Linked DNA regions of Homo sapiens: regions 1 and 2 are each linked to region 3. The links come from fine-mapping of genetic effects on gene expression. A gene starts in region 3. Each other region holds a variant in brackets. All regions are shown on one strand. Distances are between the middles of the regions. Region 1 has its middle 13 kb from the start of ITGB3. Region 2 overlaps EFCAB13 (EF-hand calcium binding domain 13). Region 3 holds the start of EFCAB13 (EF-hand calcium binding domain 13).

Region 1 (4,243 bases), 83 kb after region 3:
GGCTCATACCTGTAATCCCAGTGCTTGGGGAGGCTGAGGCAGGAGGATCACTTGAGCCCAGGAGTTCAAGACCAGCCTGAGAATCGAAGCAAGACTTCATCTCTACGGAAATGTTTAAAAATTAGCTGGGTGCACTGGCACACACCTGTAGTCCTAGCTACTTGGGAGGCTGAGGTGGGAGGACTGCTTCAGCCACTTAGCACAGTAATTAGCATGTAATAAGTATTCAATAAATGGTGGGCATGGTGACTCACACCTATAATCCCTGTGTGGGAGATTTTAGGTGTGAGCATTGTGGGAGGCCAAGGAGAGGATCCCTTGAGCCCAAGAGTTTAAAACCAGCCTGGACAACATGGTGAAACCCCATCTCTAAAAGTAAGTAAGTAAGTAAATAAATAAACAAATAAATAAGAGCTATTTTTTCCTCTTAGGATCAACTCATCTATGCTGGTTTAATCTACCCCCACATTCTGCCTACGAGTCAGGATACCTACTGATTTTCATTGTTGCTGCCCATCTCTAGCTCCCTGGACAATGTTGGCTGAATGGAGGCAGGAGGAGGTTGCATACTGTCTGGGTACTGTCTTTACCAGTCAAACTGAGCATCCTCTGACAGCTCCTGGATCAGGTCCTGTGCCCTGTGCCAACCCACGGGTGGATCTAGTGTCTAGTCCTTGGGCTTAATTAGTGCTGCTGGGACAAGTCCACCAGGTTTCTTCACCTGAAGTCCCTTGATGAGTTCCTGGGGATCTGTGAGGCCCCTCTAATATGCAAACATTTGTGTGATATGCATTTTTCTATAGAAATGCTCCTTAGTTTTCACTAGCTTCTCAAACGGGTCTGTGACCTCTAGGGTTAACAACAATTGTTCCACCTTCTTAAAGAACTAAAAGTAGATCTACCACTCCATCCAGCAATCTCACTACTGGGTATCTACCCAAAGGAAAAGAAGTCATTGCATCAAAAAGACACCTGCATGCGTAGGTTTATCACAGCACAATTCACAACTGCAAAGATACGGAATCAACCTAAGTACCTATCAACTGATGAGTGGATAAAGAAAATGTAGTAGTTGGGCATGGTGGCTCATGCCTGTAATCCCAGCACTTTGGGAGGCCGAGGCGGGTGGATCACCTGAGATCAGGGGTTCGAGACCAGCCCGGCCAACATGGTGAAACCCCGTGTCTACTAAAAATACAAAAGTTAGCTGGGGATGGAGGTGCACACCTGTAACCACAACTACTCGGGAGGCTGAGGGAGGAGAACCACTTGAACCTGGGAGGCAGAGGTTGCAGTGAGCCAAGATTGCACCATTGCACTCCAGCCTGGACGACAGAGCGAGTGTCGGTCTCAAAAATAAAAAAGAAAATGTGGTATATAGACATCATGGAATACTACTCAGCCATAAAAAGGAAGGACATAATGTATTTTGCAGTAACTTGGATGGAGCTGGAGGCCATCATTCTAAGTGAAGTAATTCAGGAGTGGAAAACCAAATACTGTATGTTCTCACTTATAAGTGGGAGCTAAGCTATGGGTATGCAAAGGCAAACAGAGTGGTATAATGGACTTTGGAGACTCAGAAGGGGGAAGGTTGAGGGGGTTGAGGGATAAAAAAAACACATATTGGGTACAATATATACTACCCAGGTGATGGGTGCAGTAAAATATCAGACTTCACCATTATACAATTCATCCATATAATCAAAAACCACTTGTACTCCAAAAGCTATTGAAATTTTTAAAAACATATCTATAATAAGAAAAAAAAAGAACAATTGCTCCAGAGGAATCCTAGGATCTAGAACACCAT[G/A]AGGCTAGTTTGGGCCACTGAGGACTCAGGAAGGCCCTTGCTATAGCCAATACCCACACTGTCAGCTATCTGCTTTCACTACTCCAGCCTGCCACTCACCAGCTTCTCTGGAGTAGCAGGACCTAGTCAGTTCTCCCAAATCTGCCTGAATTCAGTGCCAGTCCATTGTCCAGTCCCCGACATTTCTACTCAGCAGAGGGGGTTAACTCCACAGGTCTACTCCAGCCAGGGACTGACCTCCCTTCCCCCAACCCCACTTCCCCTCAGCACATGAGCTGCTGACCCAGGTCCTCTTCCCCAGCGTCTGGCTTTCCTCCATGGGAAGGAACTAGAATTTGAGAACACCTACCATATACCACCTTCTATACAAATATTGCAAATATTGATTATTTCCCTCAATCCTCATTTTATAGAGGTGCAAACTGAAGCTTGGTGGGCGAAGAGACAGTGATGATGATGATGATGATGATTTTACTAGATGCCATTTATTTTGAGGTTAGTGTGTTCAAGATACTATGCTAAGCATTCTTTCATACTTTTCTTTTTTTTAGTCTGCGGTAAGATACGTGGGGAAATCCTGATTTTACAAGTGAAAAAATGGAGGCACAGAGAGATGAGGTAATTAGCTCAAGAGCACCAGGGAGTTAGTGGCAAAGATGGGGTTCAGAAAAGTTCAGCCTGACTTCAGTGCTTACCCTACAACCTACTGTCTCCCTTACTGTAAGTGTGGGTATAGAATGTCAGGCACTCCCAAATGTTTCAAGTCAGCATTGCTATGATAATGGGAGAAATTCCTGTTTGTCATAAAACACTACTAGATTTCCCATTGTCTGAGATAAAATTGGGAAATCCATAAAGACATTATCTCTAGCGTCGCTGCAGCCCAGGCCAAGTCCAGGAATTCTGTGCCACTAGCCTGAGGAGGCACCCAGAGCTGGGTCAGTCCTACCCACCCCCAAGGGCTGCTCTATTTCCAGGTCCTGACCACTTCCTGTCTTGACTATTACAAGAAGTTACCAACCATGTCTGGCTGAATCCTGAGATATGATAGTGGCACCAGAAAAACCTGGGCATTGGGCCAAGGTCTGAGCTAAACAGAGGGCCCTTGGGATACAGCTTTTCCTTGAAAGGATGACAAACAGAGAGATGACTGTGAGCTGGAAGTATGATTAGCAAGCATGTCTCACTTCCCCCATGGCCCTATGTGTTTCCAACCCAGTAAGACCTGCCTGGAAGCCATGAGGCCTGAGGAAGCAGCCGTGAGGCCTCACCTCCTTCACTGCACAGGACCCCTGGCAGGAGCGCTCCTCTGCCTCTCTGGTCCTGCCTCCTCCCTCTCCTCTCCACCCCTCTGGCTCCATTCTCCTCGCTTCAGGGACTCAGATACCTGTGCCTACCCCAAGGGCTGTGTTCCCCGTCCCTGGGCAGTTACTCTCAACCGCCATCCTCTGTCTGCCTCACCCTGATTCTTTGGTCCTTCCCTAGGAACTCTTTGCCTGCACACCGATCCCTTAAATGCTCAGAGGATTCTGTACATGGTAAAACTTTCAGCCTAAGACCATTCTAGTTAATGAATGCCCTGTTTCCTAACGCTTTCCTTTGCTCAGGTCATAAAATGGACTCGTTGTGCCTCAGAATTCTACTAGGCAATGCACTGAATAAGATTTAAGCTAAGAGGACAAGAATGTTGATAACTTTACATCTGACATTTATTGAGGGCTCATTTTGGGCCAGGTGTTATTCTAATAAATGCCTCATACATATTACCTTGTAACATCCTCACAACATCCCTTAATGAGGTGGGTGTTGTTTTCATCCCCATTTTAGAGAGAAGGATGCCAAGGTGCAGAAAGGAAGAGGAGTCTCCAGTTCTAAACTCTGGCATTCTGGCTTCAGAGGCCAAACACTCAATAGTCAAGCCATACCCAGAAGCCTTCAATGCCTACACCCCCAAAAAGTAATTAATAATGGATATTTGGGGCACTGTGGCAGGTGACCATGGATACCCTTCAAGGTAGGGGGATAGAACTCCCAAAGTCCCTCAAAATCTAATTGTAATATGGCAGAGGATGGGAAGGAAGCATGTGAAGGTTTGGCTATGATATTAATTACATAGGTTATAAGATATAAGCCCCAGCTCTGTTTATCTGTGCCAACTTTTTAAGTTGTATTTTTTCATCAAGACAGACGGGGAAAAAAGTACCTTAAAAATATGAGCTAGCCAGGCACAGTGGCATGTGCTACTCAGGAGGCTAAGATGGGAGGATGGCATGAACTCAGAGGTTCGAATCCTCGCCTCTAAAATTAAAAATTAAAAAAAAAACCATAAAAATATGAGTGATTTTGTAGCAAGACTATCCTTACTGATGGCAGCAGCGGGCCATCCGAAGCAGGGGCTTACCATCACACCAGCTGCAGCAGGGAGGAGCC
Region 2 (4,243 bases), 110 kb before region 3:
AACTCACCAACCAATCATCTGCTGCCTTCAGAAGACTCACCTAGCACATAAGGACTCAAATAAACTTAAAGTAAAGGGGTGGAAAAAGGCATTTCATGCAAATGGACACCAAAAGTGAGCAGGGGTAGCTATCCTTACATCAGACAAGCAAACTTTAAAGCAACAGCAGTTAAAAGAGACAAAGAAGGACATTATACAATGCTAAAGGCCTTATCCAACAGGAAAATATCACAATTCTAAACATATATGTGCCTAACACTGGAGCTCCCAAATTTACAAAACAATTACTAATAGACCTAAGAAATGAGGTGGAGAGCAACACAATAATAGTGGGGGACTTCAATACTCCACTGACAGCACTAGACAGTTCATCAAGATAGAAAGTCAACAAAGAAACAATGGACTTAAACTATACCTTGGAACAAATGGACTTAACAGATGTATGCAGAACATTTCATCCAATAACTGCAGAAGACACATTCTATTCACAGCTCATGGAATTTTCTCCAAGATAGACCATATGATAGGCCATAAAGCGAGCCTCAATAAATTTAAGAAAATTGAAATTATATCAAGCACTCTCTCTGGCCACAATGGAATAAAACTGGAAATCAACTCCAAAAGGGACCTTCAAAACCATGCAAATACAAGAAAATTTGAATAACCTGCTCCTGAATGAGCATTGGGTCAAAAATGAAATCAAGATGGAAATTTTAAAATTCTTTGAACTGAATGACCATAATGACACAACCTATCAAAACCTCTGGGATACAGCAAAGGCAGTGCTAAGAGGAAAGTTCATAGCCTACATCAAAAAGACTGAAAGAGCACAAACTGACACTCTAAGGTCACACCTCAAGGAACTAGAGAAGCAAGAACAAACCAAACCCAAACCCAGCAGAAGAAAGGAAATAACAAAGATCAGACCAGAACTAAATGAAATTGAAAAAAAAAAATACAAAAGATAAATGAAACAAAAAGCTGGTTCTTTAAAAAGATAAATAAAATTGATAGACCACTGGTGAGATTAACCAAGAAAAGAAGAGAGAAAATCCAAATAACCCCACTAAGAAACAAAACAGGAGATATTACAACTGACATCACTGAAATACAAAAGATCATTCAGGGCTACTATGAACACCCTTGCGCACATAAATCAGAAAACCTAGAAGACATGGATACATTCCTGGAAAAATACAACTCTCCTAGCTTAAATCAGGAGGAATTAGGTATCCTGAACAGACCAATAACAAGCAGCAAGATTGAAATGGTAATTAAAAATTACCAACAAAAAAAGTCCAGGACCAGATGATTCACAGCAGAATTCTACTAGACATTCAAAGAAGAATTGGTACCAACCCTTTTGACGCTATTCCACAAGACAGAGAAAGAAGGAACCCTCCCTAATTCATTCTATGAAGCCAGCATCACTCTAATACCAAAACCAAGAAAGGACATAACCAAAAAAGAAAACTACGGACTGATATCCTTGATCAATGTAGATGCTAAAATCCCTAACAAAATACTAGCTAACCGAATCCAACGACATATCAAAAAGATAATCCACCATGATCAAGTGGGTTTCGTACCAGGGATGCAGGGATAGTTTAACATATGCAAGTCAATAAATGTGATACACCACATAAACAGATTAAAAGCAAAAATAACATGACCATGCAGAAAAAGCATTTGACAAATCCAGCATCTCTTTATGATTAAAACCCTCAGCAAAATAGGCATACAAGGGACATACCTTAATGTAATAAAAGCCATCTATGACAAACCCACAGCCGACATAATACTGAATGGCAAAAAGCTGAAAGCATTCCCTCTGAGAACTGGAACAAGACAAGGATGCCCACTCTCACCACTCCTCTTCAACATAGTACTGGAAGTCCTAGCCAGAGTAATATGGCAAGAGAAAGAAAGGCATCGAAACTGGTAAAGAGGAAGTCAAACGGTCACTATTTGCAGATGATGATTGTTTACCTCAAAAACCCTAAGGACTCCTCCTGAAGGTTCCTAGAACTGATAAAAGAATCAGCAAAGCTTCCAGATACAAGATTACTGTACACAAATCAGTAGTTCTTCTATACACCAACAGTGACCAAGTGGAGAACCAAATCAAGAACTCAACCCCTTTTACAATAGCTGCAAAAAAAACAAAAACAAAAACAAAAAAATCTTAGGAATATACTGAACCAAGGAGTCAAAAGACCTACTTGTAGTTTTTTAAGGAATCTCCATGTTGTTTTCCATAGTGGTTTTATTAGTTTACACTCCCACCAGTAGCGTAAAAGTGTTCCCTTTTCACCACATCCATGCC[G/A]ACATCAATTTAATTATGGCCATTCTTGTAGGAGTAAGGTGGTATCTCACTGTGGTTTTAATTTGCATTTCCCTGACAAATAGTGATGTTGTGCATTTTTTTCATATGTTTGTTGGCCATTTGTATATCTTCTTTTGAGAACTGTCTATTCATATCCTTTGCCCACTTTTTGATGGTTTTGTTTTTTTCTTGCTGACTTGTTTGAGTTCTTTGTAGATTCTTGATATTAGCCCTTTGTCAGATGTAGAGTTTGTGAATATTTTCTCTCATTCTGTGGGTTGTCTGTTTGCTGATTATTTCTTTTGCTTTGCAGAAACTTTTTAGTTTAATTAAGTCCCATCTATTTATTTTTGTTTTGGTTGCATTTGCTTTTGGGTTCTTGGTCATGAACTCTTTGCCTAAGCCAATGTCTAGAAGAGTTTTTCTAATGTTATATTCTATAATTTTTATGGTTTCAAATCTTTGATTTAAGTCTTTGATCCATCTTGAGTTGATTTTGTATAAGGTGAGTGATGAGGATACAGTTTCGTGTTTCTACATGTGATTTGCCAATTATCCCCACACCATTTGTTGAATAGGATGTCCTTTCTCTACTTCATGCTTTTGTTTGTTTTGTCGAAGATCAGTTGGCTGTATTTGGCTTTAATTCTGGGTTCTCTATTCTGTCCCATTGGTCTACATGCCTATTTTTATAACAGTACCATGCTGTTTTGATAACTACTGCCTTGCAGTATAGTTTGAAGACAGGTAATGTGATGCTCCAGATTTGTTCTTTTTGCTTAGTCTTGCTTTGGCTATGCAGGCTCTTTTTTAGTTCCATATGAATTTTAGGACTTTTTTTAGTTCTGTGAAGAATGATCATGGTACTTTGATGGGAATTGCAGTGAATCTGTAGATTGCTTTTGGCAGTACGGTAATTTTCACAGCATTGATTCCACACATCCATGACCATTTGTTTGTGTCACTGATACTCTCTTTCAGCAGTGTTTTGTAGTTTTCCTTGTGGAGATCTTTCACCTCCTTGGTTCAGTATATTCCTAAGTATTTATTTATTTTTTTTTTGTAGCTGTTGTGAAGGGGATTGAGTTCTTGATTCGATTCTCAGCTTGGTCATTGTTGGTGTATAGCAGTGCTACTAATTTGTGTACACTGATTTTGTATCCTGAAACTCTACTGAATTCATTTATCAGATCTAGGATCTTTTTGGATGAATCTTGAGGGTTTTCTGGGTATATGATCATATCATCGATGAAAAGTGACAGTTTGCCTTTCTCTTTACTGATTTGGATACCCTTTATTTTTTTCTCTTGTCTGATTGCTCTGGATCACAACAGACAGCAACTTTTAAACTGTGGTATTTGACAAAGTTTTGACATTTGTAAACACAAATAAACAATAATCACAATAAAATAATGAACATACTTATCACACCAAAAGGATTTTATATCATTTTGTCATATTTGTTTTGCTATTGTCTAAGAAATTGAGTAATTTTTAAAGTAAAAAATCCAAGAGAAAAGGAAATATGGAACAGGTGGCTGAAATAGAAAGTACTAGTAAAATGGTAGATTTAAAGCCAAATACTTTAGTAATCTCATAAGTGTAAGTTAACCACATGGTTTAATTAAAAGACATATTACTAATTAATTAATGGGAGTGAAGGAATAAATCGTCCCTGCCGAAGAATTTCAAATAATTTTAAAATGTAGAAGGAATGAGGGAAGTAGAAAATCAACATTAGAACAACACAGTAATAATTGCTACAGGCTAGCAATTCATCTGCCAATGAATGCTAAAATTAGTGGGAGAAACTTAGAGGAGAAACAGAATACTTGCACAGTCTCAAAGTATCTCCTCCAAAATATTTATTAATTACTGTGGTTATTTTAACACACGTCCCCAAATTCTTTGATACTC
Region 3 (4,243 bases):
TATATATATATATATTTTGTTTATATATATATAAAATCTGCCCTCATGAAGCTTATGTTCTAGTCAGGGAGTGAAATAATAAAATAGAAAAATAAAACATATTGTATGTTATCTGCAATAAGTACAAAAAAAAAAGTAAAGCAGGGAGGGGAATATGAAATGTAGTATAGGGGAAGAGATGCAGGGAACAGAATGGGTGGCCAAGGAAGACCTTACTGAGAGGGAGACTTTTGAGTACAGACCTGCAAGAACTGAAGTAGGGAGCTGATTAATATCTTAGGGAAGAGCATTTCAGCCAGAAAGAAAAGTAAGTACAAAAGCCCCGAGGCAAGAAGAATGTTCAAGGAATAGTGGGAAGGCCCCAGGAGGCTGAAGCAGGAGAGATCAGAGAGGCTAAGTGAAAGTGGCATATCATGGAGGACCCCTAGATGACAGTAAGAACTGTGGCTTGTACTCTGAAGGAGTGACAAGCATTGAAAGAGTTCTGAGGAGAAGGATTACATAATCTGAAGTTCTTTCTGAAAGGATCACTCTGGTTACTGTGAGGAGGGAAATCAGGTAGGTCTGGGTTCCTGAATGCCAAGTGAAGAAAGTACTTCAAGAGTGAGCAATCAGGCTGTGCATGGTGGCTTATGCAGGTAATCCCAACACTTTGATGCGGGGGTGGGGGTCTAAGCAGGAGGGCTGCTTAAGGCCAGGAGTTCAAGACCAGCCTGGGCAACAGTGAAACTCCCACCTCTACAGAATTTTTTTTTTAATCAGCTGGACATGGCGACCTTAGTCCCAGCTACTCCAAAGACTGAGCCAGGAGGATCTTTTGAGCCCAGGAGTTTGAAGCTGCAGTGGGCTATGATTGCACCACTGCACTCCAGCCTGGACGACAGAGACCTTGTCTCAAAAAAAAAAAAGGGGGGTGGGGTGGGCGGTTAAGATCAGTACTGAATGGTTCGCTAGGTTTCACAACACGGAGGACACTGACAAACTTGAAAGGAGCCATCTGGGTGGGGTGGTAAGGAGACAATGTCGTCAGAGTGAGTACAAGAGAGAACGGGGTAAAGAAATTGAACCCAGCCAGTAGGGTAGGCTCTTTCAAGGAGTTACGTTGTTAAGAGAAATAAGGCAGTAGCTGAGAGGAAAATGGGGCTGTGAGGCTTTAAGATGAGAAAAACAAAGGCGTCTTCACTGAAGCATGACTCTGTATGACATCCTTTCACAAAATACCTTCCTCTTTCCTCTCATGCCACATTTCCCTCACAAGCCGCCCGACTCGCTCGCTTTTCTCTCGCCAGAGGGACTGAAAACGTCATTAATACCAACTGCATACACAACTCCATTGCAGCTACTGCCATTCATGAACGTTCAAACTTTCGTCACCCTGTTTTCATATTTGTGTAACAAACGTCGAGTGAACGAACCTCCACCTCTTCCAAGAACCCACGCTGAGGAGGCTTCCCATAGACCCTGCTCTTACGAAGCCAACGACTTCTACAGGAAGAAAGAGGACCTGTAAGCTAGCGAGTGAACGACCCGCAAGATGGAAATGAGTGTGCTAATAGAGGTCTCCGCCTCCCGCTGAAGGAGCAGGGAAGTGACACCACCCCCGGGACCGCCAGCCTTCTACAACAACCACCATTTCTGAGGAACCACCTGATCAGTCTCAGTCACCCTTCAATCTGCCCCTTTGTCCCACTCAGTCCCCTCACTGTTCCTTTCTGGAACCTTCCTTCACCCAGCCCCACCACTGTTCTCCTTCCTCCCTCGCACCCTACTGCATTCTCCACCCTCCACCTCGAAGGCTCCCCTCCCAACTCCTCAGCGGGTCTCGCCTCCCCTCCCCACCTCTGTCCCCCAAGGGTCCCACTACCGGCCCGAGCTGCCCTCCCTTCCTCTCGGCTGGAGGCCCCCGCGCTCTCTGTGGTCAGCCCCTGCCGCCCCTCGGGCGGCGCTGCTCTAGCTCTGCAGCCTTCCCAGGATCCCGCGCCGCGCGGCCCCGCCCCCGCGGTCACCTGACCGAGCCCGACGCTCCGCCCACCGACCACCCCGAGCGGAGCGGGCCCAGGACCCTATCGGCTGTCGAGCCGGTGCTGCCGCGGCCACCGCCACCGCCCAGGGGCTCCGGGGCTGTGGGGAGCGGCTGAACTCAATACCGCCTCCGCGCTGACTGGAAGGCACTGCGGCCGCGCCTGCCTGCCCCACCTCGTAAGGGCCTGTGACCTCACGAGGCCAGCCGCCGGGCGCTGCATTCGAGCGGTGGGGCTCCTGTCCGTGCGCTTTCCTCCCGCAGCCCCGGCCGGGATTCCGCCCTCCGTCCTTGCCACCCGCTCGCCACTCTTCCCTAATCGCTGTTCATTCTCCGGTGCGCTGTCCCGCCATGGTCTGACCCCACTTCAATCTTACCTTCGGTCCGTCCTTTGAACACCCCGACCCCCGACCCCTTTCTTCCAAAACATTCCATCCTTCTTGGCTTCTGCTACTCAATAATGGACAGCAGCTCGAAGGCCATGTGTCCCACGGCTTTGCTGAAATTTGTCTCGGGTTGCCTTTAAGGAGACTGTCGTTTCCTTTTGAAAGAGATACTTTGGTTGGTTTGGTTTTCTTCTGTGTGTTTGTTTTTCCTATGTATTTATCGTATGCAGTTGGGCAAAATACTTAACGCTCCCTGAGTCTCGATTTTCTCATTCTTCCAGGGTTGTGGGAATTCAAAAATATATACGTAGTGCTCAATAAATGTTACAATATTTAATCCCTTCCGTGATACTACTGTGTTCATTTACATCTTAAACCTTGCTTTGTAGGCATTCTTTAATATTTTATTTAGATTTTTATTATTATTAAATATATGTACAAATCATAATTGTAAATATTTAATGGGGTACAATGTTATATTTTAATATATGTATACAATATGGAACGACTAAGTCAAGCTTAACATATCCATCACCTTGTTTAACGTTTTTTATGGTGAGACATTTGAAATTTACTCTTAGCAGTTTTGAGATATACGATATATTATTATTAGCTATAGTCACCACACTATGCAATAGATCTCAGAAACTTGCTGCTTTTGTCTGACTGAACCTTGTACCCTTTGAACAGCATCTCCCCATCCTGCATCTCCTACCCGCCCCGTCCCTTTCCAGCCTCTAACAACTATTCTACTGTCTACTTCTATGAGTTTGACTTTTTAAGATTCCACATATAAGTGAGATCATGTGGTATGTGTCTTTCTGTGCCTGGCTTTTTTCACTTAGTATGTCCTCCAAGTTGATTCATGTTGTCACAAATGACAGAAATTCTTTTTTAAGGCTGAATAGTATCCATTGCATATGTTGATTCATGTTGTCACAAATGACAGAAATTCTTTTTTAAGGCTGAATAGTATCCATTGCATATGTTTACTACATTTTCTTTATCCATTCATCCATCGATGGACACAGGTTGATTCCATTATCTCAGCGATTGTGCATAATGCTGAAATGAACATGGAAGTGCAAATAAGTCTTTGATATACTGATTTCAGTTACTCAATATATGCCCAGAAATAGCATCGCTGGATCATATGGTAGTTCTATTTTTAATTTTTTGGGAAACCTCCATATAGTTTTCCATAATGGCTGTAATAACACTAACAGTGTAAAAGGTTTCTCCACATCCTCAGCAACACATTTTTTTCATCATTTTGATAATAGCAATTCTTTTTTTTTTTTTTTTTTTTTTTTTTTGAGATTGAGTCACTCTGTTGCCCAGGCTGGAGTGCAGTGGCACAATCTCAAATCACTGCAACCTCCATTCCTGGGTTCAAGCAATCTTCCTGCCTCAGCCTCCCAAGTAGCTGGGATTACAAGCATGTGCCACCACACTTGGCTAATTTCTGTATTTTTAGTAGAGATGGCGTTTCACCATGTTGGCCAGGGTGGTCTCAAACGCCTGACCCTCAAGTAATCTGCCCACCTCAGCCTCCCAAAGTACTGAGATTACAGGTGTGAGCCACCACACCCAGCTTAATAGCCATGCTAACAGGTGTGAGGTGATATTGTAATCTTATTTTGCATTTCCCTAATAATAGTGATTTTTTTTTTCGCAAACCTGTTGGCCATTTGTATGTCTTCTTTTAAGAATGGCTGTGTCAGGCTGGGCATGGTGGCTCACACCCATAATCTCAGCACTTTGGGAGGCCAAGGTGGGAGGACCGCTTGAGCCCAAGAATCTGAGACCAGCCTGGGCAACATAGTGAAGCCTCATC

What was found. PIP is the estimated chance that this variant, and not a neighbour inherited with it, causes the effect.
Region 1: its variant is the best candidate, but not a certain one, in a credible set for the expression of EFCAB13 in subcutaneous fat (GTEx, PIP 0.72).
Region 2: its variant is the best candidate, but not a certain one, in a credible set for the expression of EFCAB13 in whole blood (TOPMed, PIP 0.54).

What each region holds. Positions count from the first base shown.
Region 1 is chr17:47,238,835-47,243,077 of GRCh38, reverse strand. No RefSeq gene overlaps it. Among named protein-coding and RNA genes, the nearest start is that of ITGB3, 13 kb to the left of the region's middle. RefSeq lists an enhancer at 3,905-4,243. The variant G/A (reference allele first, on the strand shown) is at 1,814.
Region 2 is chr17:47,433,460-47,437,702 of GRCh38, reverse strand. The region is part of intron 24 of EFCAB13 (EF-hand calcium binding domain 13); the gene reads right to left. Among named protein-coding and RNA genes, the nearest start is that of NPEPPS, 96 kb to the left of the region's middle. The variant G/A (reference allele first, on the strand shown) is at 2,327.
Region 3 is chr17:47,321,696-47,325,938 of GRCh38, reverse strand. EFCAB13 (EF-hand calcium binding domain 13) reads right to left here and starts at 1,984. Exons shown (of 25, transcript NM_152347.5): 1 at 1,865-1,984; 2 at 1,416-1,485. It overlaps EFCAB13-DT (EFCAB13 divergent transcript), which reads left to right and starts at 2,038. Exons shown (of 3, transcript NR_110880.1): 1 at 2,038-2,250. RefSeq lists enhancers at 1,196-1,375, 1,416-1,505 and a silencer at 1,846-2,255.